Homo sapiens: one gene and its partners. The protein of the gene in region 1 purifies or fractionates together with the protein of each later gene. This does not show direct contact. Each region holds a gene or a part of one and is shown in the gene's direction. Other genes may lie near its edges. The genes, in order: CLEC12A, VAMP4, MAN2A2, STX8, PBXIP1, IKBIP and STX18.

Region 1 (3,500 bases):
CTCCCCAATATCTCTGTATGACCTTTCCCTGAATCTCAAGACTAGAAAATACATGTGCCACTTTCACATTTCCATAAGGAGTTCTAATCTCATTTTAAACTTAAAATGTCAAAAATAGTAATATTTATTTTTCTTCTAAAATTGTCTCTCTCTCCAGACAGCCTCATCTCATTAAATACACATATAAATATATATTTAAATACAATTTTCAAGTGTTTTCTCTGTGCCAGTTCTGTTCTAATTGCATTATAAATATTAAATTATTTAGTGTCTGATACTTTGCAGTCTTTCTGTCTCCCATGCTTTAACCATATTGAAACTCAGACACAGAGATGTTAAAAGGTGTTAAATAATTTTCCCGAGGTTTCACAAGCAATAAGCAGCAGAACCAGAATTCAAACCAAAACATACTGATATGGTTTGACTGTGTCTCCACCCAAATCTCATCTTGAATTGTAGCTCCCATAAGTCCCACATGCTGTAGGAGGGACATGGTGGGAGGTAATTGAATCATGGGAGCGGGTTTTTCCCATGCTGTTCTTGTGATAGTGAATAAGTCTCATGAGATCTGATGGTTTTATAAAGAGGAGTTTTCCTGCACAAGTTCTCTCTTGTCTGTGGCCATGTGAGATGTGCCTTTCACCTTCCACCATGAGTGTGAGGCCTCTCCAGCCACATGGAACCATGAGTCCATTAAACCTCTTTTTACTTATAAATTACCCAGTTGTGGGTATGTCTTTATCAGTCGTGTGAAAATGAACTAATGCAGTAAATTGGTACCAATAGAGTAGGGCGCTGCTGTAAAGATACCCAAAAATCTGAAAGAGACTTTGGGACTGGGCAACAGGCAGAGGTTGGAATACTTTGGAGGGCTCAGAAGAAGACAGAAAAATGTGGGACAGTTTGGCACTTCCTAGAGACTTCTTGAATGGCTTTGACAAAAATGGTGATAAGGCTGAGGTGGTCTCAGATGGAGATGAGGAATTTGTTGGGAACGGGAGCAAAGGTGACTCTTGTTATGTTTTAGCAAAGTGACTGGTAGCATTTTGCTCCTGCCCTAGAAATTTGTGGAACATTGAACTTGAGAGGGATGATTTAGGATATCTGGCAGAAGAAATTTCTAAGCAGCAAAGCATTAAAGACGTGACTCGGGTGCTGTTAAAAGCATTCAGTTTTATAAGGGAAGCAGAGCATAAAAGTTCAGAAAATTTGTGGCTTGACAATGATAAATAAAAGAAAATCCCATTTTCTGAGGAGAAATTCAAGCCAGCTGAAGAAATTTCTAAAGTCATGGGAAGCCAAATGATAATCGCCAAGGCAATGGGGAAAATGACTCCAGGGCATATCAGAGGTCTTCCCAGCAGCCCCTCCCATCACATGCCCAGAGGCCTAGGAGGAATAAATGGTATTATGGACTGAGCCCAGGGTCCCTCTGCTGTGTGCAGTCTAGGAACTTGGTGCCCTGCATCCCAGCTGCTCCAGCCATGACTAAAAGAGGCTAAGGTACAGCTCAGGTCATGGCTTCGGAGAGGGTGCAAACCCCAAGCCTTGGTAGCTTCCATGTGGTGTTGAGCCTTTGAGTGCACAGAAGTCAAGAGTTGGGTTTTGGGAACCTCTGTCTAGATTTCAGAGGATGTATGGAAATGCCTGGATGTCCAGGCAGAAGTTTGCTGCAGGCATGGGGTGCTCATGGATAACCTCTGCTAGGACAGTGCAGAAGGGAAATGTGAGGTCAGAAGCTCCACACAGAGTCCCCACTGGGGTACTGTCCAGTGGAGCAGTGAGAAGTGGACCACCGTCCTCCAGCTCTCAGAATGGTAGATCCACTGACAGCATGCACTGTCCACTTGGAAAAGCTGCAGACACTCAATATCAGCCCATGAAAGCAGCCATGAGGGAGACTGTACCTTGCAAAGCCACAGGAGCAGAGCTGCCCAAAGACATGGGAGCCTACCTCTTGCATCAGCATGACCTGGATGTGAGATATAGAGCCAAAGGAGATGATTTTGGAGCTTTAAGATTTGGTGCCCTTTGGACTTGCATGGGGCCTGTAGCCCCTTTGTTTTGGCCAATTTCTCCCATTTGGAATGACCGTATTTATCCAATGCCTGTACTCTCATTGTATCTAGGAAGTAACTAACTTTCTTTTGAATTTACTGGCTCATAGGTGGAAGGGACTTGCCTTGTCTCAGATGGACTGTGGACTTTTGAGTTAATGATGAAATGAGTTAAGTCTTTTGGGGACTGTTGGGAAGGCATGATTGGTTTTGAAATGTGAGACATGAGATTTGGGAGAGGTCAGGGTGGAATGATATGGTTTGGCTGTGTCCACACCCAAATCTCATCTTGAATTATAGCTCCCACAATTTCCACGTGTTGTTGGAGGGACCTCGTGGGAGGTAATTGAATCATATGGTAGGGGTGTTTCTCGTGCTGTTCCTGTGATAGTGAATAAGTGTCATGAGATCTGATGGTTTTATAAAGGGGAGTTTCCCTGCACAAGTTCTTTCTTCTCTTGTCTGCTGCCATATGAGGTGTGCCTTTCACCTTCCACCATGATTGTGAGGCCTCCCCAGCCGCGTGAAACTGTGAATCCATTAAACCTCTCTTTCCTTATAAATTGCCCAGTCTTGGGTATGTCTTATTAGCAATGTGAAAATGGACTAATACACATGCTAACCCTAAAGATGGTGTTTTGCTTTTTATCACTATGAGATACTGCCTACAAATGTGCATATCTACCAACTTTCTCTAAAGAAAAATTTCAGAAATTTTTGCAATAGATTTTAGCTTAGAAATGTATACTTAATTTATCCATGGGTCATCAAATTCCCTAGTACTAGCTAGTCAAACTTCTGTTCTCTTTCACATGTCATACTGTAACAGATTTCTTACTGATAAAACAACTCTGTTATTTTGCCCTCCTAGATTAAATTCTTCCAGTGGTTTCCCCAAAAATCTAACTTATTCTGGCTAGAAAAGGCTGTAAATAATGTCTCCTCCTTGTTATTTTAAAAACAAAACAAAAGAAAACAAATAAAACCTTTAACATCATTTTTCACATTGGCCACAATTCTTCTGCCCCTCTGAATATATTCTGTTTTTCAAATAGAAATCTTTTCCTTAAATTATTGTCTTTGAACTTCATGTAATTGCTACCTGTAATGTTCTTCCTACTTATTTTGCATGCTGGTTCCTATTCATAAGATTTGAACTGCCTGCTCTCTATAACAGCTTAGTTTTAAATCTCTGCACAACATCGCCAAATTTGAGATCTTTTCTCCCTTTCTTTCTTTCTCCCTGTCTCACTTATATATCTATTTATCTATTTCCTCCTACAATTAAAATTTATAGCTGTGAAAACAGGAACTTGTACATCTTGCTCACTTTGATATTGTTAGCACCCAGGATAATGTCTAATAAATACAAGGCACTCAAAAGATAACTTTTGAATAATTGAACTTTTTAATAATTGAATAAGTTCATTGAATAAATAAACT
Region 2 (3,500 bases), on another chromosome or scaffold:
AGAGTTTCAGTTTTGAAAGATGAAAAAGTTCTAGAGATGAATGGTGATGACAGTTCATTAAGTGAATTACTTAATGCCACAGAACTGTATGCTTAAAAACGGTTAAAATAGTAAATATATGTTATATATATTTACCACAATAAAAATTTATTGACTATATATGTGTGGCTCTATTTCTGGACTCTATGTGTCTTTCTTACATCAATACCATAGTAATCACTATCCTGAGTACTACGACTTTATAGTAAGTTGTGAGGTAGTGTAGTGTATATCCTTCAACTTTGCACTGCCTTTTGAAAGTTCTTTTGGCTATTGGAGGCTCTAAGCATTTTCATATAAATTTTAGAATCATCTTGTCAGTTTCCAGCAAGCCTGCTAGAATTTTGGTTGAGATTATATTGAACCTATAGATGAATTTGGGGATAATTAACATCTTAACAATATTTGGTTTTCTGACCCATGAGCATAGTATATCTTTTTATTTATTTGGGTACTTAATTTCTCTCAGCAGTGTTTTGTAGTTTTCAGTGTCCAGATGTTGTATTTTTTTCTTTGTCAAATTGATCCTTAAGTATTTTCTTTTATTTTTTATTATTATACTTTAAGTTCTAGGGTACATGTGCACAGTGTGCAGGTTTGTTACATATGTATGCATGTGCCATGTTGGTGTGCTGCACCAGTTAACTCATCATTTACATTAGATATATCTCCTAATGCTATCCCTCCTCCCTCCCCCCACCCCATGACAGGACCCGGTGTGTGATGTTCCCCACCCTGTGTCCAAGTGTTCTCATTGTTCAGTTCCCACCTATGAGTGAGAACATGCGGTGTTTGGTTGTCTGTCTTTGCGATAGTTTGCTCAGAATGATGGTTTCCAGCTTCATCCATGTCCCTACAAAGGACATGAACTCATCCTTTTTTATGGCTGCGTAGTATTCCATGGTGTATATGTGCCACATTTTCTTAATCCAGTCTGTCACTGATGGACATTTGGGTTGGTTCCAAGTCTTTGCTATTGTGAATAGTGCCACAATAAACATATGTGTGCATGTGTCTTTATAGCAGCATGATTTATAATCCGTTGTGGGAAGTCAGCGACCCCGAATGGAGGGACTGGCTGAAGCCATGGCAGAAGAGCATAAATTGTGAAGATTTCATGGACATTTATTGGTTCCCCAATTTAATACTTTTATAATTTCTTACACCTGTCTTTATTGCAATCTCTGAACATAAATTGTGAAGATTTCATGGACATTTATCACTTCCCCAGTCAATACTCTTGTGATTTCCTGTGCCTGTCTTTACTTTAATCTCTTAATCCCGTCATCTTCGTAAGCTGAGGATGTATGTCGCCTCAGGACCCTGTGATGATTGCATTAACTGCACAAATTGTTTGTAAAGCATGTGTGTTTAAACAATATGAAATCTGGTCACCTTGAAAAAAGAACAGGATAACAGCGATGTTCAGGGAACAAGGGAGATAACCATTAGGTCTGACTGCCTGAAAGCTGGGCAGAACAGAGCCATATTTCTCTTCTTACAAAAGCAAATAGGAGAAATATCACTGAATTCTTTTTCTCAGCAAGGAACAGTCCTGAGAAAGAGAATGCATTCCTAGGGGAGGTTTCTAAAATGGCTGCTCTGGGAATGTGTGTCTTATATGTTGCAGATAAGGGATGAAATAAGCCCTGGTCTCCCAGGCCTATTAGAACGAGGAAATTCCTGCCCAGTAAATTTTAGTCAGACCAGTTGTCTGCTCTCAAACCCTGTCTCCTGATAAGATGTTATCAATGACAGTGCGTGCCCGAAACTTCATTAGCAATTTTAATTTTGCCCCAGTCGTGTGATCTTGCTCTGCCCCCATTTGCCTTGTGATATTTTATTGCCTTGTGAAGCATGTGATCTCTATAATCCACACCCTATTAGTACACTCCCTCCCCTTTGAAAATCACAACAAAATCTTGCTGGTTTTGCGGCGTAGGGGGGCATCACAGAACCTGCCGACACGTGATGTCTCCCCCAGACACACAGTTTTAAAATTTCTCTCTTTTGTAGTCTTTCCCTTTATTACTCAGACCAGCCGACACTTAGGGAAAATAGAAAAGGTCCTATGTTGAATTATCGGGGGTGGTTCCCTTGATATAATCCTTTGGGTATATGCCCAGTAATGGGATGGCTGGGTCAAATGGTATTTCTAGTTCTAGATCCCTGAGGAATCGCACACTGACTTCCACAATGGTTGAACTAGTTTACACTCCCATCAACAGTGTAAAAGCGTTCCTGTTTCTCCACATCCTCTCCAGCACCTGTTGTTTCCTGACTTTTTAATGATCGCCATTCTAACTGGTGTGAGATGGTATCTTATTGTGGTTTTGATTTGCATTTCTCTGATGGTCAGTGATGATGAGCATTTTTTCATGTGTCTGTTGGCTGCATAAATGTCTTCTTTTGAGAAGTGTCTGTTCATATCCTTCGCCCACTTTTTGATGGGGTTGTTTGATTTTTTCTTGTAAATTTCTTTACGTTCTTTGTAGATTCTGGATACTAGCCCTTTGTCAGATGGGTAGATTGTAAAAATTTTCTCCCATTCTGTAGGTTGCCTGTTCACTCTGATGGTAGTTTCTTTTGCTGTGCAGAAGCTCTTTAGTTTAATGAGATCCCATTTGTCAATTTTGGCTTTTGTTGACATTGCTTTTGGTGTTTTATTCATGAAATCCTTGCCCATGCCTATGTCCTGAATGATATTGCCTAGGTTTTCTTCTAGGGTTTTTATGGTTTTAGGTTTAACATTTAAGTCTTTAATCCATCTTGAATTAATTTTTGTATAAGGTGTAAGGAAGGGATCCAGTTTCAGCTTTCTACATATGGCTAGCCAGTTTTCCCAGCACCATTTATTAAATAGGGATTCCTTTCCCTATTTCTTGTTTTTGTCAGGTTTGTCAAAGATCAGATGGTTGTAGATGTCTGGTATTATTTCTGAGGGCACTATTCTGTTCCATTGGTCTATATCTCTGTTTTGGTACCAGTACCATGCTGTTTTGGTTACTGTAGCCTTGTAGTATAGTTTGAAGTCAGGTAGCGTGACGCCTCCAACTTTGTTCTTTTGGCTTAGGATTGTCTTGGCAATGTGGGCTCTTTTTTGGTTCCATATGAACTTTAAAGTAGTTTTTTCCAATTCTGTGAAGAAAGTCATTGGTAGCTTGATGGGGATGGCACTGAATCTATAAATTACCTTGGGCAGTATGGCCATTTTCACAATATTGATTCTTCCTATCCATGAGCATGGAATGTTCTTCCATTTGTTTGTGTCCTCTTTTATTTCGTTGAGCAGTGGTTTGTAGTTCTCCTTGAAGAGGTCCTTCACATCCATTGTAAGTTGGATGCCTAGGTATTTTATTCTCTTTGAAGCAATTGTGAATGGGAGTTCACTCATGATTTGGCTTTCTGTTTGTCTGTTATTGGTGTATAGGAATGCTTGTGATTTTTGCACATTGATTTTC
Region 3 (3,500 bases), on another chromosome or scaffold:
ACATTTGCTGGTTGGCAGGACTGGGCAGAGTGTCCTGCTCCGTCCTGAGTGTGAGTCCTTAACTATAGGCTGGTGGGAAACGGGCAGCTGGAGATTGCGACAGGAGGCTGGGTGATGCCAGATGAGGCCAATTCCCACTACTTTGCATTGATTGACCAGCTCATCGAAGGACACCAGTGGCTGGAGAGAAATCTTGGTAAGTCCAGGCCCAGGCATGGGGGTCTGCCCCCTGGGCTGTAAGGCACAGGCAGGGGCTGTAAGGCACAGGGATCGGCAGGGGGTGGTTCCTTTCTAGGCAGATCCCACCATGTGGGCCTGGTGTGATATCATCTCTCCACTCACTACCAGGACAAGAGCTGGGGTCCCAGCACCTGGAAGGCCGGGGGGCCAGCCCCTGAGGTGTGTTCAGGGCCTCTCTGGCTTCCATGCCCTGCCCAGGTGCAACCCCCCGCTCTGGCTGGGCAGTGGACCCCTTTGGATACAGCTCCACCATGCCTTACCTGCTGCGCCGTGCCAACCTCACCAGCATGCTGATTCAGAGAGTGCACTATGCCATCAAGAAGCACTTTGCTGCCACCCACAGCCTAGAGTTCATGTGGAGGCAGACATGGGGTAAGGCCGGGTAGGGTAGAGGGGGTTACTGCAGCATAGTCTTCACTGGGGAACAGCAGGGATATCAGAACTAAGACCCCCACTGTTCTTCAGAGCAGACCTGCAGGCACTGGTGTGGACTGCCAGAAATGGTCGCACCCTCTGGTTAGGGGAGGGCCATATTGACCTCTGGCCTCTACAGGGCCTGCTGTCCCAAGGGCTTCAGCGTGCCCTGTGTGCCCGTCCCCTGAGGGAGCCCCTCATGTCTTTCTCCCTGGCCTACACACTCTCTCCAGCCCTAGGTCCAGTTACAGCCTCGCGGTCTATCAGGGCTGCCTTTAGCCTGAACAGATCCTTGCCCCCCTGGCGTCCAGAGGCTGCCTGCTGGTGGTGACCACGTGGTGTGTCTCCTGCAGACTCGGACTCCAGCACAGACATCTTCTGTCACATGATGCCCTTCTACAGCTATGACGTCCCCCATACCTGTGGCCCAGATCCCAAGATCTGCTGCCAATTTGATTTCAAACGCCTGCCTGGTGGGCGCATCAACTGCCCTTGGAAGGTGCCACCCCGGGCCATCACAGAGGCCAACGTGGCAGAGAGGTATCTGCTTCCAGCCCTTTCACTTCACAGAGGAATCGGGAGGCCTGGCTCTGGTCTGGGCCGTGCCACGTGGAGGGTGGGCTCAGGTGGTGAGTTGAGGCTCCTAGCCTCTGCAGCAGCAGCTCCTTACTAAGTCTCCTGAAAAACTGGAATGGCTCTTGCAACCACCTTTCACAGAATGCTTTTAGGTTCTCACATGAGTACTTCTTGATGCCCTAACAAACTGCCAGGGCCAGCTGACAACTTAGAGGTGAAGGATTCCCAGGTTAGATGTATGTTACAAACTTCAGGCTCATGTGCCTTCACTTAGTGCCAGTGTTCTGACTTGGCTTTAAGTCAACCACGAGAATCCTGTTCAGATCCACATTCAGTCCCACGAGATAGCCTCCAGCCTCTGAGAAAACAGACCTGTCCCTTTTGAGAGAATTTAGGGACCCCTAAAGATAGCACTCTTGCTGAAATCAGGCCCCGGGGGAAAGTGTTAGGTAAGAGTTGATCCAAACAGCAATTTAGTCAGAACCTTAAGAATACGACAAGTTGGATTGGTTTTTATGTTGCAATGCTCTGATTTCTCCCTGATGTCCAAGAGTTGAAACGTGACCAAAAGGGAAATAAAGTGGTCTTTTGTTTCCAGAAGTCTAAATGGCGATTCCAGGCAAGAATCTAGGGCTATGAGGGCGTGACTTTTCTTAAAGCAGCAGTTGTGATCAGTGAGGCTGGCCTAGGTTTACAAGAACAGGCCCTGAAAGGTAACCATTTTCTCCTTTGAAAGGCTTACTAGACTGATAAGTTAGGGGAAAGTGGTATTTGAGGAATCCTCTCATGAGAACAGAGTAGAAAAGTACAAGCTGGGCCAGCGCCGCTAAGTAGATTAGTTGACTCTTTGGACTGTGATATTTATAACATGCCAATTAAAGTAGGAAAGGGCTTCTGCTGATGTGCCACAGGGCTGTTTTTCTACTGATTTTGCCAATAATTTGGATGAAAAGAAAAGAAATGTTTATATATAGTTCCCATTATGTACCAGGCACTATTCTAAGTGTTTAACAAATATTCATTCATTGATTTTATTTTATTTATTTAATTTAATTTTTTTTTTTTTTTGAGATGGAGTCTGTCACCCAGGCTGGAGTGCGGTGGTGCAATTTCGGCTCACCGCAACCTCCGCCTCCTGGGTTCAAGTGATTATCCTGCCTCAGCCTCCTGAGTAGCTGGGATTACAGATGTGCACCACCACACCCGGCTAATTTTTGTATTTTTAGTAGAGACAGGGTTTCACCATATTGGCCAGGCTGGTCTTGAATTCCTGACCTCAGGTGATCTGCCTGCCCCGGTCTCCCAAAGTGCTGGGATTACAGGTGTGAGCCACTGCGCTCGGCCCATTCAATCCATTTTAATTCTCATAACATTATATGGGTACCTACGGATGTTATCCTTATTTTGCTAGAAATGGAGGCTCAGAGAGGTTACTTGCCCACAGTCACTGAGCTAGTACTTGTGGAGCTGGTGTGATATGGCTCCGGGGTCCAGACCCTTCACTTTGGTGCTGCATCGCTAACTGGTGGGCAAAATGAGGCGGGAGTGTCAGAACCAGGATCCCAAAAGATCTCAACAGCCTAGCATAAAAAATAACATGTCAGCTGTCAGAACTGCCCAGAGAGCACCGGACTCCCCTGGGGCTGGGATTCATGTGCAGGAGGTGTCTGTTTGCGCTGAACCACTCCTTGGTGGATGGGATGTCTTCTAGGGGCTTGCTGGCGGGATGGCTGTGCGTGGTGCTCTTTTACTGATGAGACTTCGTGGTGGGCCCATGTTTTTTTTCCTGCCCCAGGGCAGCCCTGCTTCTGGACCAATACCGGAAGAAGTCCCAGCTGTTCCGAAGCAACGTCCTCCTGGTGCCTCTTGGAGATGACTTCCGATATGACAAGCCCCAGGAGTGGGATGCCCAGTTCTTCAACTACCAACGGCTCTTTGACTTCTTCAACAGCAGGCCTAACCTCCATGTGCAGGTGTGAGGGGCACTTGACTGGGGAGGGGCCTCACAGTGCTGCAGCCCATCCCTTCCCGTGAGACCGTGCCCTGGGTTCCCAACTCGGGCAGGGTGCCCCCCTTTTTTTTTTTTTTTTGAGATGGAGTCTCACTCTGTTGCCCAGGCTGGAGTTCAGTGGCGCGATCTTGGCTCACTGCCAGCTCCGCCTCCCGGGTTCACGCCAGTCTCCTGCCTCAGCTGCCCAAGTAGCTGGGACTACAGGTGCCTGCCATCACACCCAGCTAATTTTTTGTAGTTTTAGTAGAGATGGGGTTTC
Region 4 (3,500 bases), on another chromosome or scaffold:
GAGCTCTAAAGATGAGTCTAATGTTCATCTCTTTGTTGAATTGGTCAGAAGGTCGTGTCCTGGACAAGATGATCTTCTCAGCTTGGACAGAATGCAGACAGGTGGGGAGAGGAGAGGAGCTACTTGAGAGGAGAAAAATCCTGAAAACATGGGGACTGAGGTGGAAATCATGTGTTTCCTGTTCCTTAGACAGCGAGACCAACTGGTCTCGTGCAGAAAGGGCACATGGATTATTAGAGGGAGTAAGGTTAAGATTGACAAATCAGAATGTGTTTATTCTGTTATGAATGCTACATTATAGTCACAAAATTGGTATTGAAACCCTGCATGTGTTTCTGTCTCTGAGCAACCAAATACTCCTTTTTTTTTTTTTTTTTTTGAGACAGAGTCTTGCTCCGCTACCCAGGCTGCAGTGCAGTGGCGCCATCTTGGCTCACTGCAACCTCCGCCTCTCAGGTTCAAGCGATTTTCCTGCCTCAGCCTCCCAAGTAGCTGGGATTACAGATGTCTGCCGCCAAGCCCGGCTAATTTTTTTTGTGTTTATTAGAGACAGGGTTTCATCATGTTGGACGGGCTGGTCTGGAACTCCTGACTTCAGGTGATCTGCCCGCCTCAGCCTCCCAGAGGGCTGGGATTACACACATGAGCCACTGCGCCCGGCTCCAAATACCCTTTAATGGGAAATTATATGGTCTTTTTTTAAAACAACAACAACATTGTAATCTGTAGTCGCAACATTGTGTCTGCTTGAGAAATAATATTTGTACCTTTGGGGTCACGTAGCCTCTGAGACAAACTTTGTCCTAATAAAAAGGCCGCTGTTCGGCCTTCTGTTTTTGAAATTTAAGAACCTCATTTATTACCAACTTCTTTTAGGATTATTAACTCAAACATCTCTTGGAGGATTAGTACAAATATTATGTTCTCCCATCATCTCTATAACAGGCTGTAATTCTGAGGACCAAGCTTGTGCCTTATTCATCCTTGTATCTCGTCCAGCACTGAATACAGTTCCTGGCATAAACTAATGATGCAATAAATTGTGTTTGAATTGAATTTTCAAAGCATTCAAGGCTGGCCACCTCTGCACTTGTGGGAGTAATTTGCATTTGAGCTGCATGTTTTGAGATATATCATGCATTTAATATTGTTCTTTAGGTCCAGCCTGATGAGTGAAGAGGCTAAGCGAGGAGCACCCAACCCTTGGCTCTTTGAGGAGCCAGAGGAGACCAGAGGCTTGGGTTTTGATGAAATCCGGCAACAGCAGCAGAAAATTATCCAAGGTACTAAATATCCTGAGGAGTGTGGGCTCAGAAACCTTGCCAGAATTTTTTTTTTTTTTTTTTTGAGACGGAGTCTTGCTATGTCGCCTAGGCTGGAGTGCAGTGGCGTGATCTTGGCTCACTGCAACCTCCACCTCCCGGGTTCAAACGATTCTCCTGCCTCAGCCTCCCGAGAAGCTGGGACTACAGGTGCGTGCCACCATGCCCGGCTAATTTTTTGTATTTTTAGTACAGACAGGGTTTCACCCTGTTAGCCAGGATGGTCTTGATCTCCTGACCTCATGATCTTCCCACCTTGGCCTCCCAAAGTGCTGGGATTACAGGTGTGAGCCACCGTGCCCGGCCACCAGATTTTCTACTGGAGCCTTGTTTGTTCCTCATCCCCATTGAAAATTGGAGTGAAAACTGCTGGTCTTTTAAAGCTTTTGGTGTGTGCCTCAGGATACCTGAGGAATAGACAGTTGCTGTCACTCATCTCGGTGGCTCATGGAAGTGGTGATTTTCCATTGGGCAAGAGCAGAGAGAGCAGATCTGAATCTAAGTCCAAGCAAATTTGATGCTTATGCTCTTTACTTTAGCTTCACGACTGGGAATTAGTCTCCAAACACAAGACTCCATTTTATTTTTTAAATTATAAAATATGTCAGTTTGGCTTTTCTTTTTTATCTTTTGCCCTGTGGCTTTTTAACTTTTTTTTTTTAAACTTTCTTATATTTTTAAAATTTCAGAAGTATGCATGATTGTTATACAAAGTGTAAACAACATAGGAATGTATAAGATGAAAGCCCTCCATATTGTTTCTCCAATCTCAAACTGGAAACAGATTAATATGTATTTCCTTAGACCTTTTGTATACATTCACATACATATATTCAATATAAATATACTTATTTTACATAAATGGAATCATGAGATATTTAGCTCTCTCCATATATATATATAATTCCACACCTTTTTAAAACTTAGTATGTGTCGGCTGGGTGTGGTGGCTCACGCCTGTAATCCCAGCACTTTGGGAGGCTGAGGCAGGAGGATCACCTGAGATCAGGAGTTCGAGACCAGCCTGGCCAACATGGTGAAACGCCGTCTCTACTAAAAATAAAAAATTAGCTGGGTGTGGTGGCACGCACCTGTAGTCCTAGCTACTCAGGAGGCTGAGGCAGGAGAATCGCTTGAACCCAGGAGGCAGAGGTTGCAGTGAGCCGATATAGCATGTCACTGCACTCCAGCCTGTGCAACAGAGTGAGACTCCATCTCAAAGGAAAAAAAAGAAAAAACCACTTAGTATGTGTTATGGACTTTTTAAAATGTCAGTATGTACAGATACATTATTCTTTCTAATTCTGCTTTTTAAAATCAGCTTTATTGCCAGGCCTGGTGGCACATGCCTGTACTCCTGACACTTTGGGAGGCCAAGGCAGCAGGATGGCTTGAGTGTAGGAGTTTGACACCAGCCTAGGCAACATAGTAAAATCCCATCTTTAAAAAAATTAATGAATAAAAAGGAAGAGGGAGGAGGAGGAGGAGAAAATAAATCTAAAGTCAGCTTTATTGAGATGTAGTTGATATGATCATAAATGGCCCATGTTTGAAGTATATGATTTGATAAGCTTTGACATATGTATATGCCTGTGAAACCATCACTGCAATAAAAATAATGAACCTAATTGTTATTCCCAAAAGTTTTCTTCATGCCTCTTTGTAATTCTTCCTATTGTTCCTCCCTGCCATGCCCAGACAACTGCTGAACTTCTTTCTGTCACTATAAATTAGTTTCCATTTTCTATAATTTTATATAAATAGAACTATACAGTATGTACCTTTTGGGGAAGAAGGGGCTCTGGCTTCTTTGTCTAAGCATAATTATTTTAAGATTCATTGAACTGGTTATGTGTATCAGTATTTCACTCTTTTTTTTTTTTTTTTTTTTTTGAGACAGAGTCTGGCTTTGCTGCCTAGACTGGAGTGCAGTGGTACGATCTCAGCTCACCACAACCTCCACCTCCTGGGTTCAAGCAATTCTCCTGCCTCAGCTTCCCGAGTGGCTGGGATTACGGGCGCCCGCCATCATGCCCAGCTAATTTTTTTTGTATTTTTAGTAGAGATGGGGTTTCACCATGCTGGCCAGGCTGGTCTCGAACTCCTGACCTCAAGCGATCCACTCGACTCGGCCTCCCAAAGTGCTGGGATTACAGGCATGAGCCACCGCGCCCGGCC
Region 5 (3,500 bases), on another chromosome or scaffold:
CAGGTAGCAGCTGGTGGGGCAGAAGCCCACTGAGGAGGGAGAAGGGGGTTGGCAGGATGGGGAACTGAGTGGCTAGAGAAGGGATGGCAAAAATTTGTCAAAGGCATCTCTGAGAGTTCCAAGACGTAGCGACTTTGTATATTAGAGCCACCAGGAGGGGAGGAGGAGAGAAGCTCAGTTTCAACATGTTGAGTTTGAGGTGCCCTTGAGGAACCCAGCTGGGAGTAAGGAGTTGACCTTGGGGATGACGCTGGAGCAAGATAATGGACTGGGGCTCACTGGCAGAGGGAAGGCAGGTATGAGCAGACGGGCACCAGGCTCTCAGAGCCCTGGCCTCCTGTTGAGGTGTCTTTGTTGACAGCTGGGGGACCTTGGGCATGCCATTTCACCTCTCTGTCCTCTCCTGTAAAACGGGCGTCATGATTTTTGCCTTGTAGGGGGGACCATGAGAATAAAAATGTTTTGAAAATAGCAAAGACATAACTAAGGTGAAGCATTACTCTCAGAGGGATAGTTGGAGCCACGGGGCGGGTGGCAGGCCAGGGCCCTATGGAAGGGGAGTAGGCAGAGGGAGGAGGCCGAGGCTGTGTGGCCAGGGCTGGATGTCCAGGCTGAGAGTGCCCTGGAGACAGGCTGTCTGTGGTTGGGGTGGGTTGGGCTTCTGTGAGCAGCTGCTGGGAGACGGGTGTCGGGGGAGTGTCAGGGGCCAGCGGGAAAGGCCAGAAAGGCTTGAGAGATGTAAGTAGTTGTCCAGTTGAGAGGGCAGCTGCAGGGACACCCTGGGAGGCATAACTGTGACCCGTGGGCACCCAGGGGACTTTGTTCTCTTGCCTTCTTCCCACCCTTAATATTATAATATCTGGGTTGTTCATCTGTGGGGAAGGAAGTGCTGCTGATCTTGATGGGAGGGAAACGTAGGCTCTAGCTCACCTTCTGGAGGCGGGGCACCAGGTTTGTACTGCAACCAGTGCCTTGGTCTGGTGGTGCGGCGCTGTGTAGCGGAAACCTGGCCCCTGAAAGTTCCTCCTCGCAGTGAGTGAGGCTGGGGAATGCCGAGCACTTGGTGCTGCCCCGAGCCCCTTTTTGGGCCAGCTCATGACTGAATGTGTGTGTTTCTGGGATGTGGGCTGGGGCCCCATTCTTGGGTGCAGCCCTTCTCCTTGCACTTCTCCTCCCAGAGCCTGCCAGTGGAGACACTGGGCCCGGCATCCAGGATGGACCCAGAATCTGAGAGAGCCCTGCAGGCCCCTCACAGCCCCTCCAAGACAGATGGGAAAGAATTAGCTGGGACCATGGATGGAGAAGGTACTGGGCCCTGCTTAGGACATAGCTTACCGGACAAAGCTATTCTCCATATTTTGGGGTTTCTCAGTTTCCTCAGAGAAAGGGAGGCTGGTTCGTTTTAGTTCCTCCATTAATCTCAGTTGACAAACTCCTTTTCTCATTCCATCCTGGCTTTTTCCTGCCTCTTCCAACCTGGTAGGGGCCCGTGGGATGGACAGAGGGCTGCAAAGGAAATTCAGCTGGGGCAGTGGGTTTTTCTGCGCCTTTTCTCCTACCGCAGGGACGCTCTTCCAGACTGAAAGCCCTCAGTCTGGCAGCATTCTAACAGAGGAGACTGAGGTCAAGGTGAGGAGATTTGCTGTGGGAAGGAAGGGAGGCGGGGAGGGCTAGCAGCTGCTCACTGCTGCATCTGCATTAGGGCACCCTGGAAGGTGATGTTTGTGGTGTGGAGCCTCCTGGCCCAGGAGACACAGTAGTCCAGGGAGACCTGCAGGAGACCACCGTGGTGACAGGCCTGGGACCAGACACACAGGACCTGGAAGGCCAGAGCCCTCCACAGAGCCTGCCTTCAACCCCCAAAGCAGGTGAGAGTCTTCCTTGCCTCTCCTGTCACTCTCCTTCTAGAAGGTATGGGAGAGGGATCAGCCATCACTACTGAGCACATGCTGTGGTCCAGGCCCTAGGGCTGAGCAGCTTGGTGCTCTCCTTTCTCACCACTACCCCTGGGACGTTGAGGCCCAGAAAGGTTGAATGACTTGACCAAGGTCACACTGCTGGTAAGGGGCAGGGCCCACATCTGGTTGACTCTTTCCTCTCTGCCATGGGGACCTCCTCTTTTCTTGCTTCCAGAATTCAACCCTCATTTCTGGAGTCCCTTCCTTGTGCTGGCCCTGGGCCTGGGCAGAGGGAAGATGGTTGGTTACCGCCTATGTAAGCGGCAGATCAGACTGAGCCAAGGTGCATATCAGACCTAAGAGTGGTACAGAACTGTAATTAAGGTACTCCCAAAGGAAGGAGAGGCCATTCAGTCAGGGGACTGGTTGAGGGCAAGGGAGAGGCTGGGACAGTGAGAGGTGACATTTGAGTGGAGCCCTGAGCACAGAGTAGGCTTTTGGTACGTAGGGCAGGGAAAAGAGAATGTTTTAGGCCAAGGCTGCAGCATCAGCAAAGGAGTGGGGACCACCTGTCTTGTGCTAAGGAGCTCTGTTCCAGGCTTGTGGCAGAGGAGTGTAGGAATTGGTCCCTGTTGAGTGACAGGATGGAGGGCCTGGGGGCCATTTAGGAGGCAACTGCAGTGGTCAGGCAAAGATGATGCAGACCTGGGCCAGGCATGGTGGCTCGTGCCTATAATCCCAGCACTTTGGGAGGCTGAGGTAGGAGGATTGCTTGAGCCCAGGAATTCAAGACTGCAGTGAGCCATGGTCATCCCACTTCACTCTAGCCTGGGCAACAGAGGGAGACCCTGTCTCTAAAGGAAATAAAAATAGGCGGCAGGGTGCAGTGGCTCACGCCTGTAGTCCCAGCACTTTGAGAGGCCAAGGTGGGTGGATCACCTGAGGTCAGAAGTTTGAGACCAGCCTGGGCAACATGGTGAAACCCCGTCTCTATTAAAAATACAAAAATTAGCTCGGTGTGGTGGTGCACGCCTGTAGTCCCAGCTACTTCCCAGCTACCTGGGAAGCTGAGGCAGGAGAATCGCTTGAACCTGGGAGGCGGAGGTTGCAGTGAGCCAAGATTGTGCCACTGCACTCCAGCCTGGGTTACAGAGGTAGACTCTGCCTCAAAAAATAAAAATAAATAAAATAAAATAAAATAAAATAAAATAAATAAAAATAAAAATAGGCTGGGTGTGGTGGCTCACACCTGTAATCCTCACACTTTGGGAGGCACAGGCAGGAGGGGCTGGGCTAGGGTAACCCACCTAGGCCAGGCGTCTGTCCTAGCATCCTCCCCCAAAAGGAATGTTTCCTATTTACCCACACATCCTGACCCTCCCCTCTCCCACTATAGTCAGGGCGTCTTCCCAGTTCTTGGTTCACATCCCTTGTGCTAAGGTTTGGGCCAGGGCTGGCATACCTGTTCCACATGGTACATGAAACATACATGGTATCACCTGTGATTGATTGGTGTGGTCTGCCTGGAGCACTGTGTGGAAAAGGATTTAAAGAACATGCCAGGTGCCATGATCAGTTAACACTGTTCCAGGTATGGGAGGT
Region 6 (3,500 bases), about 89 Mb from region 1:
ATAAGGTATTATCCCCACTTCACAGATGAGGAAACATCAAAGTTATTTAACTTGCCCAAAGTGGTTATACAGCTTAGTAAATGGCAGAGCTAAGGCAGTCCAGTCACCCACCTAATCAGTATGATTCGTTGCCTCCATTCGATATTAATCCCCAACAAAAGGCCAAGATCCTAGAAATAGAAATCCCCAAGTCCAGAATTACTTATAGTTCTTTTCTTCCTTCTACTTGAAGGTATACCCTTTAGCAGACCCTAATTGCTTGTTTTTCACTCTCATCTAAATGGGAAGACTGGGAACTGCTCTCACTAGAATATGCCCCTGACTCATAAAAAGGAAATAAAGGACCTTATACCCTAACATGGATGCCAGTTTGAAAGCTTAGTTTTTCAGATCTGAAGCAGCTTTCTCAGCATATTTTCTTGACTTCTAGAAAATCAGTCATCTAGGCTGGGTGCGGTGGCTCACGCCTGTAATCACTTGAACCTGGGAGGTGGAGGTTGCAGTTAGCCAAGATCATGCCACTGCACTCCAGCCTAGGCAGCAGAGCGAGACCCTGTCTCAAAAAAAGGAAAGAAAGAAAAAAGCCGGGCGCGGTGGCTCACGCCTGTAATCCCAGCACTTTGGGAGGCTGAGGCAGGCGGAACATGAGGTCAAGAGATCGAGACCATTCTGGCCAACATGGTGAAACCCCATCTCTACTAAAAATACAAAAATTAGCTGGGTGTGTTGGCACACGCCTGTAGTCCCAGCTACTCGGGAGGCTGAGGCAAGAGAATCACTTGAACTCGGGAGGCAGAGGTTGCAGTAAGCCAAAATCGTGCCACTGCACTCCAGCCTGGTGACAGAGTGAGACTCCATCTCAAAAAAAACAAAAAGAAAGAAAAATCAATCATCTTCTTTAATGTTAAATGAATTAATATTTATCAAGTACTTAGAATAGTGTCTGGCACAAATAAGGGAAAAATAAAATATATTTTAACGCAGCACAGCACATATCACTTCATTTTTTTCATCACTAGTGCTGAGTCAGCTTTGTACTTTTTTCTTATATGCACCGTTCACATGTAGCAAGGATGAATTTTTTTTTATTTTAGTAAGAGGCTAATCAAAAAAAACTACTAATTATCAGAGATGATATTTCCACTAACATGACACAGGTTGTGTTTAAAGCTTGAATTTGAAAAGAAGTTCTGAGAAAGTTCATTAATGTATTTTTTGTAATGAATCAACCTTCATACGAAAGTCTCTTATAATAATGATTTCATTCTGAATAAACTCGCTAATCTATAGTATAGATCTATGGTGGAGTATTGGATAATAAAACTAGTCCCTGAAATGAACTGTGTTTCTTCTTTTACTTTTTTTTTTTCCCCCCTGGCAGGGAGGGACAGGAAGGCGTGAGGAGGGCAACTCTTATTTCTTTAGGGTGGTCTCTTTCTTAATAAGGTCTCTATCTGCTGGTCTTAGATATCCAATACTCTGGGGGAAAAAAAAAAAATCCTAAAAGCCAGAAATGAAACAGCCAATGAAAAAAGAATTATGTTCACCCTTCCATCTCAGAGAATTAGGATAATAGTGTTTTCTAATAACCAGAAGCTTTAAAGGTTCCTATTAATTTAAACACAGGAGAAAAGTCAATCTGTGCTAATAATGTAACCTGGGATCCCGTATAATAGAAATTAGCCAGCATCATCAAAAGAAATGTATTTCCTCCAGTATTGTAAACATTTGTCTAATTTAGCTTTGGACAGTTTTGTAGCTACGGTTAGCCTAATGATGCCATTTATGAATTCAAAGCATTACCACTTTTGCAAGGATGCACAAAGTTCAGATAACTGCATTTACTCAGAAAAGTCTTTCACCTCTCCATTAATCCTTGGGATCTTTAAATGATTGCCTTTCAGTGGAAATGAATTTCACAAAACATGGTCAGTCAGTATGGTTCTAAGTTTGGCTGTGCACTTAGATTACCTGAGAAGCTGTTGAGTTTCCAACATCCAAGCCACATCCCAAGCCAATTAAATCAGAATCTTTGTGAGACCCAGGCATCAGATTTGTTAAAGCTGCCAGGTTATTACAATATGTAGCAAAGCTTTTGAACCACTTGTCTCAGGACTGTGTTTAGGCAGGTACTTATGGTTCTGCTCCATTGCGTTTTGATGACTCAATATGCAAAGAATTTCAAGTGTTTTTTTCTGAGCCTAAAGAATTGAGTTAAAGTAGACAAAATGGTATTGGATCCAAGACAATTCTTTTATGCTTGCTCATTTCAAATCCTGTATAAACAGATGTTGATTTGTTGTTTTGAAGATTGAGATAGCTTTTTGGGCTTCCACCCATAATGAAGAATAAACTCCAATTTTAGAGTGACATCTCAAGTACACCTATACGAGTCACATCACTGAGTATAACCAATTGTGCAGTTTATACACTCTGCACTGATTGTGATCTATTGTCACTTTGGCAATGGCTTTTTTCTATTTTCATACCTCTTTTCACACCTCCTGCTATTTTGCAACTTCTAATTACTATCACTTCTCTCTTCTACTCCACTGCTTTTTATCAGTCAACTCTTCTACATTTCAGTTTTAAAATACTTTTTATAGACGACTCTTGTTTCGCCTACATTTCAGCATAAAAACACCTATTTTCTAGATATTACCCAATCATGGCCTTGTGAAAAACAGTAGAGATCAAAGATCTTGTTCTAAATTTTTCACTTTGTCCTCCTCTAAAATATTTCTTGTGCATGCATCTATTACAGATATCACACCATCTTATTTGGTGGGCTGTGAATTGTGAACAAGGGCAGTGCTTTACTCATCTTTGCATGAGTTAAACCAGTACCTACCACATGAAAATCTGTCAAAAGAAACTGATAAAAGCTGCATCTAGGCTGGACATGTTGACCCACACTTGTAATCCCAGCGCTTTGGGAGGCTGAGGGGAGGATCACTTGAGGCCAGGAATTCAAGACCACCTTGGGGCTGGGCACAGTGGCTCATGCCTGTAATCCTAGCACTTTGGGAGGCCAAGGCGGGCAGATCACTGGTCAGGAGTTCAAAACCAGCCTAGCCAACATGGTGAAACCCCATCTCTACTAAAAATATTAAAAAATTGGTGGGGCGTGGTGGCAGGTGCCTTTAATCCCAGCTACTTGGGAGGCTGAGGAGGAGAATCGCTTGAACCCAGGAGGCAAAGGTTGCAGTGAACCGAGATCGTGCCATTGCACTCCAGCCTGGGCAACAAGAGCAAAACTCCATCTAAAAAAAAAAAAAAATACCGGGCGTGGTGGCTCACGCCTGTAATCCCAGCACTTTGGGAGGCCAAGGCAGGTGGATCACAAGGTCAGGAGATCGAGAGCATCCTGGCTAACACAGTGAAACCCCGTCTTTACTAAAAATACAAAAAATTAGCCAGGCGTGGTGGCAGGCGCCTGTAGTCGTAGCTACTCGGGAGGCTGAGGCAGGAGAATAGCGTGAACCCAGGAGGCGGAGCTT
Region 7 (3,500 bases), on another chromosome or scaffold:
ATGAGGCTCCCAGCAAGCACCAACTTGCTAGCCATGTGTGTGGCCTCCTTGGAAGTGAACCCTCCAGCCCTGGTCAGCCCTTCAGATGACTGCAGCCCTAGTTGCCTTCTAACTGCACCCTCCTGAGACACACAGAGCCAGAACCACCCAGCCAAGGTGTTCCCAAATTCCTGACCCCAGAAGCAGTGATCAGTAATAAATCTCACTGTTTCAAGGCACTAAGTTTTATGACTCAGCTGTAGTAACCAGAACAATTAAAAAGATTGATAACAGTGACTTTTGAAAAAATTTTTTGTTAAATTTTGTAGAGGACCATTTCCTAAATAGTCTTTTTGAGAAAACTGCTCTCAAAAAACTCTGTGAAGAGAGTGTCTGCAATCAGGTTATTTGCAAATACCATCCTTTTTGGAAATTCAAAATGTATTTGAGCATATTAAAGGCTCTGAAAACTTATATAGTGAAACACCTTTCTAGCTTTGACTCAGCTTTCTCAGACTGATTCGACCACAGAAGTCCTTTCCCACAGCCCAGGATGGGTAGAATATACCCCACATGGAGCAGTTGTTACGAGCATGGGCTTCAGAGCTAGGTTCCCTGAGGTCATGTCCCAGCCCAGCCATTTGCTGACTGTGACCTGGGCAAGTTTCCTAACTTCTCTACACCTCAGTTTCCTCCTTTGTTAAAAGGTTGTTAATACTAGTACCTACCTGATGGGGATATTCGAAATTAAATAAATTTATCCATACAAATTGCTTAGAAAAAATGTCCACTATATGAGCCATTAACAAATGTTAGCTGGCATTAGTAATATCACCCTAATATGCATTTACATTGTTCCTTTAATTACAGTCTCTCTGCCTAACAATATGGAATTTATCCTAGATAGCACTCTGCCTATAATTTTATAGCATTTATGTAGATTCTAGTAAAGCTATTACAAAGCCTGTTATTGCATAACCTAAACGTTTTCTTATTAACCAGTTACTTGTATTTATAATGCACTCATTCATTCAACATATATTTATGCAATGGAATACCAGGCACTAATCCAGAATCTGGGATCTAGGAGCAAGGCTGACAACCAACAGATAAATAAACAGGGGGATTATAGACTGTGATAACTGCTATGGAGAAAACAGATGCAGAGGAGTGGGAGGCGGCCTTTCCTTCACAGAAGAGTCAGAGGTGGCCTCTCTGAGTAGGTGAAATTGAGCTGAGCCCTGTAGATGGGAAGGAAGACGATGCCCTGGGAAGAGCCCGTGGGGAAGAAACAGGGGAATGCCAAGTGCAGAGGACTCAGTCCTGAAACAAGTCTGTGCCTTCAAGTGGGTATTTAAGGACTTGTGCTTTCAGAGCTAACTTATATTAAGATGTGACTTAGAACATATACGTGTGTGGGTATAGGTATATATATGTGTGTGTATGAGTATATATGTTGGGGGGTATGTGTGTGGGGGTGTGTGTGTGTATATATATGGGTAGGGGGTATATATGTGTGTGTTTCTGTGTGTGTATGTGGGAGTATATGTGTATGTATATGTGGGGGTATATATGAGTGTGTGTGTGTATGTATATATGTGTATGTAGATATATGTGTGTGGGGGAGGGTATATGTGGGGGGTATATATACATATCTGCACATATATGGTGTGTGTGTGTATGTAGGGGGTATATATGTGAGTGGGGGGTATATATATGTAGTATATGTATGTGGGTGTGTATATATGGTATGTGTATATGTGTGGGTATGTGTGTGTATATATGTGTGTGTGTTTATGTGGGTGAGTATATGTGAATATATGTATGTGGTGTGTGTGTATATGTGGGGGATATACATGCATGTATGTATATATATGGGGTATGTGTGTATGTAGGGGGTTATATATGTGTGGGGGGTATATATATGTGGTATATATATTGTGTGTATACATGTGGGGGTATGTGTGTGGGGGTATATGTGTGGTGGTATATATGTGTGTGGGTATATATGTGGGAGGGTATGTATATATGTGTGCATGGGTATATATATGTGGTATATATGTGTGTGTGTGGTGTGTGTATATGTGTGGGTATACATGTGTTGGGGGTATATATGTGTGTGGGGGTATATATATATATATGAATATATGTATAATATGTATTATATATTATTATTAATAACATACTCAGCAATCTTTTTGCATTAGTGTCAACTACTGGGTAAGCATCAATCCAGCTTCCTGGGTTTGTTGAGTGCGGTGTGTCAGTCTATGGAGCGTATTCAGCACATACCAACTGCAGCCTCCCCCTGCATGCTGGTCACTGTGCCGTGGCTGCAAATGCAGAGGGCATGCACAATCTCTACCCTGCAGGCAATAATGCCAGTGTTAAGTGCCCCAGTGGAGGTGTGTCCGGATGGCCACTGGGCCCAGAGGCAGTGACTGCTCCCCAGTACAGGGACACAGAGCAAAAGCGCAGGGTCACATGTGACTCCTTCTGTTTTCAAAAAGGAATCCTGTTATGGAAATAAAATACCTGCCTGCTAATTATTTATTTTTAGATCTAAGCTGGAACCAGAACCAAATACAAAGACAAGAGAATCCACATCTTCTGAGAAAGTTTCACAGAGTCCTTCAAAAGACTCTGAAGAAAACCCTGCCACTGAAGAACGTCCAGGTACGAATTGAGATGAAAATCTCACCTTGCATTTCTTCCTTGTGACATGTTGGCAAGAGTACAGCACAGGAACGAAGTAGCACAGTCTCAGACATGTTTTGGTGTTTGTATTTGCATAAAGCAAAGGAAGCAGGAGGCGGCAGCCTTTGTGTCTGTCACAGTTGATCTTCGTGAGTGCCACAGAGGCAGGGGGTGCATTCACCCAGTCACCTGGGAGCTGGCGGGGTCCGGGAGAAAGGGCCTGCTGGAGGGGTGAGGCCGGGAGCTGTCTGCCTCAGGAGCCCTGTGTGCCGGCCTCAGGAGAGGCAGCATTGCCTCCCTGGCAGCCATGCCCTGCATGTCAGCTCTGAGCTGCCAGGCCTGCATCCGGGTAGAGTGTATAACCTCAGCAGCCTTGCACAGCCAGTCAAACCAACAGGACAAAATGCAAATCTGAATTGACGTGCTGCCTATCACCACAGATACTAGAGGGCCCATGGCTTAGAATAGTTCCTGATGCACAGGAGATGCAGAAGAAATACAGGGTCTCCATGAAGTCCGAAAATGTAGGGGGACATACACAGTGTGGTCATGGATGTCTGCGATCTGTGTGTCTGGCTGGTACCCCTGCGTAGGGATGCCTGCATAGTTTGCCATATCTCAAAGGCAGAGTGGAGCAGGGTTCTTTGTGTGAATCACAGGGTGATGGCGTGCTGGAGCCAGGAGAGACCTGGGAGTCCCCTTTAGCATCCTTCTCCGTAGTCTCATGGCAGTTCTTATTAACTCTTGTCTTCCAGATGCTAGGCATGGTCCTGGACATGTCACAGAAATTACAGGTTGAGTATCTCTTATCTGAAATGCTTGGG

Evidence for each region.
Region 2: the proteins of CLEC12A (region 1) and VAMP4 purify together in Homo sapiens (affinity purification with mass spectrometry; 2 studies listed by BioGRID and IntAct, with this or other methods). This does not show direct contact.
Region 3: the proteins of CLEC12A (region 1) and MAN2A2 purify together in Homo sapiens (affinity purification with mass spectrometry; 3 studies listed by BioGRID and IntAct, with this or other methods). This does not show direct contact.
Region 4: the proteins of CLEC12A (region 1) and STX8 purify together in Homo sapiens (affinity purification with mass spectrometry; 3 studies listed by BioGRID and IntAct, with this or other methods). This does not show direct contact.
Region 5: the proteins of CLEC12A (region 1) and PBXIP1 purify together in Homo sapiens (affinity purification with mass spectrometry; 3 studies listed by BioGRID and IntAct, with this or other methods). This does not show direct contact.
Region 6: the proteins of CLEC12A (region 1) and IKBIP purify together in Homo sapiens (affinity purification with mass spectrometry; 2 studies listed by BioGRID and IntAct, with this or other methods). This does not show direct contact.
Region 7: the proteins of CLEC12A (region 1) and STX18 purify together in Homo sapiens (affinity purification with mass spectrometry; 3 studies listed by BioGRID and IntAct, with this or other methods). This does not show direct contact.

What each region holds. Positions count from the first base shown.
Region 1 is NC_000012.12:9,974,409-9,977,908, forward strand, and holds part of CLEC12A (C-type lectin domain family 12 member A), read left to right. Parts: intron 1-3,500. UniProt on the Homo sapiens protein: Myeloid inhibitory C-type lectin receptor that acts as a negative regulator of myeloid cell activation. Myeloid cell inhibition is required to limit proinflammatory pathways and protect against excessive inflammation.
Region 2 is NC_000001.11:171,721,566-171,725,065, reverse strand, and holds part of VAMP4 (vesicle-associated membrane protein 4), read left to right. Parts: intron 1-3,500. UniProt on the Homo sapiens protein: Involved in the pathway that functions to remove an inhibitor (probably synaptotagmin-4) of calcium-triggered exocytosis during the maturation of secretory granules.
Region 3 is NC_000015.10:90,906,302-90,909,801, forward strand, and holds part of MAN2A2 (alpha-mannosidase 2x), read left to right. Parts: intron 1-68; coding exon 69-196; intron 197-438; coding exon 439-612; intron 613-1,007; coding exon 1,008-1,194; intron 1,195-3,025; coding exon 3,026-3,203; intron 3,204-3,500.
Region 4 is NC_000017.11:9,502,821-9,506,320, reverse strand, and holds part of STX8 (syntaxin-8), read left to right. Parts: intron 1-1,158; coding exon 1,159-1,283; intron 1,284-3,500. UniProt on the Homo sapiens protein: Vesicle trafficking protein that functions in the early secretory pathway, possibly by mediating retrograde transport from cis-Golgi membranes to the ER.
Region 5 is NC_000001.11:154,949,600-154,953,099, reverse strand, and holds part of PBXIP1 (pre-B-cell leukemia transcription factor-interacting protein 1), read left to right. Parts: intron 1-1,178; coding exon 1,179-1,305; intron 1,306-1,564; coding exon 1,565-1,629; intron 1,630-1,702; coding exon 1,703-1,868; intron 1,869-3,500. UniProt on the Homo sapiens protein: Regulator of pre-B-cell leukemia transcription factors (BPXs) function. Inhibits the binding of PBX1-HOX complex to DNA and blocks the transcriptional activity of E2A-PBX1.
Region 6 is NC_000012.12:98,634,789-98,638,288, reverse strand, and holds part of IKBIP (inhibitor of nuclear factor kappa-B kinase-interacting protein), read left to right. Parts: intron 1-3,500. UniProt on the Homo sapiens protein: Target of p53/TP53 with pro-apoptotic function.
Region 7 is NC_000004.12:4,437,549-4,441,048, reverse strand, and holds part of STX18 (syntaxin-18), read left to right. Parts: intron 1-2,539; coding exon 2,540-2,655; intron 2,656-3,500. UniProt on the Homo sapiens protein: Syntaxin that may be involved in targeting and fusion of Golgi-derived retrograde transport vesicles with the ER.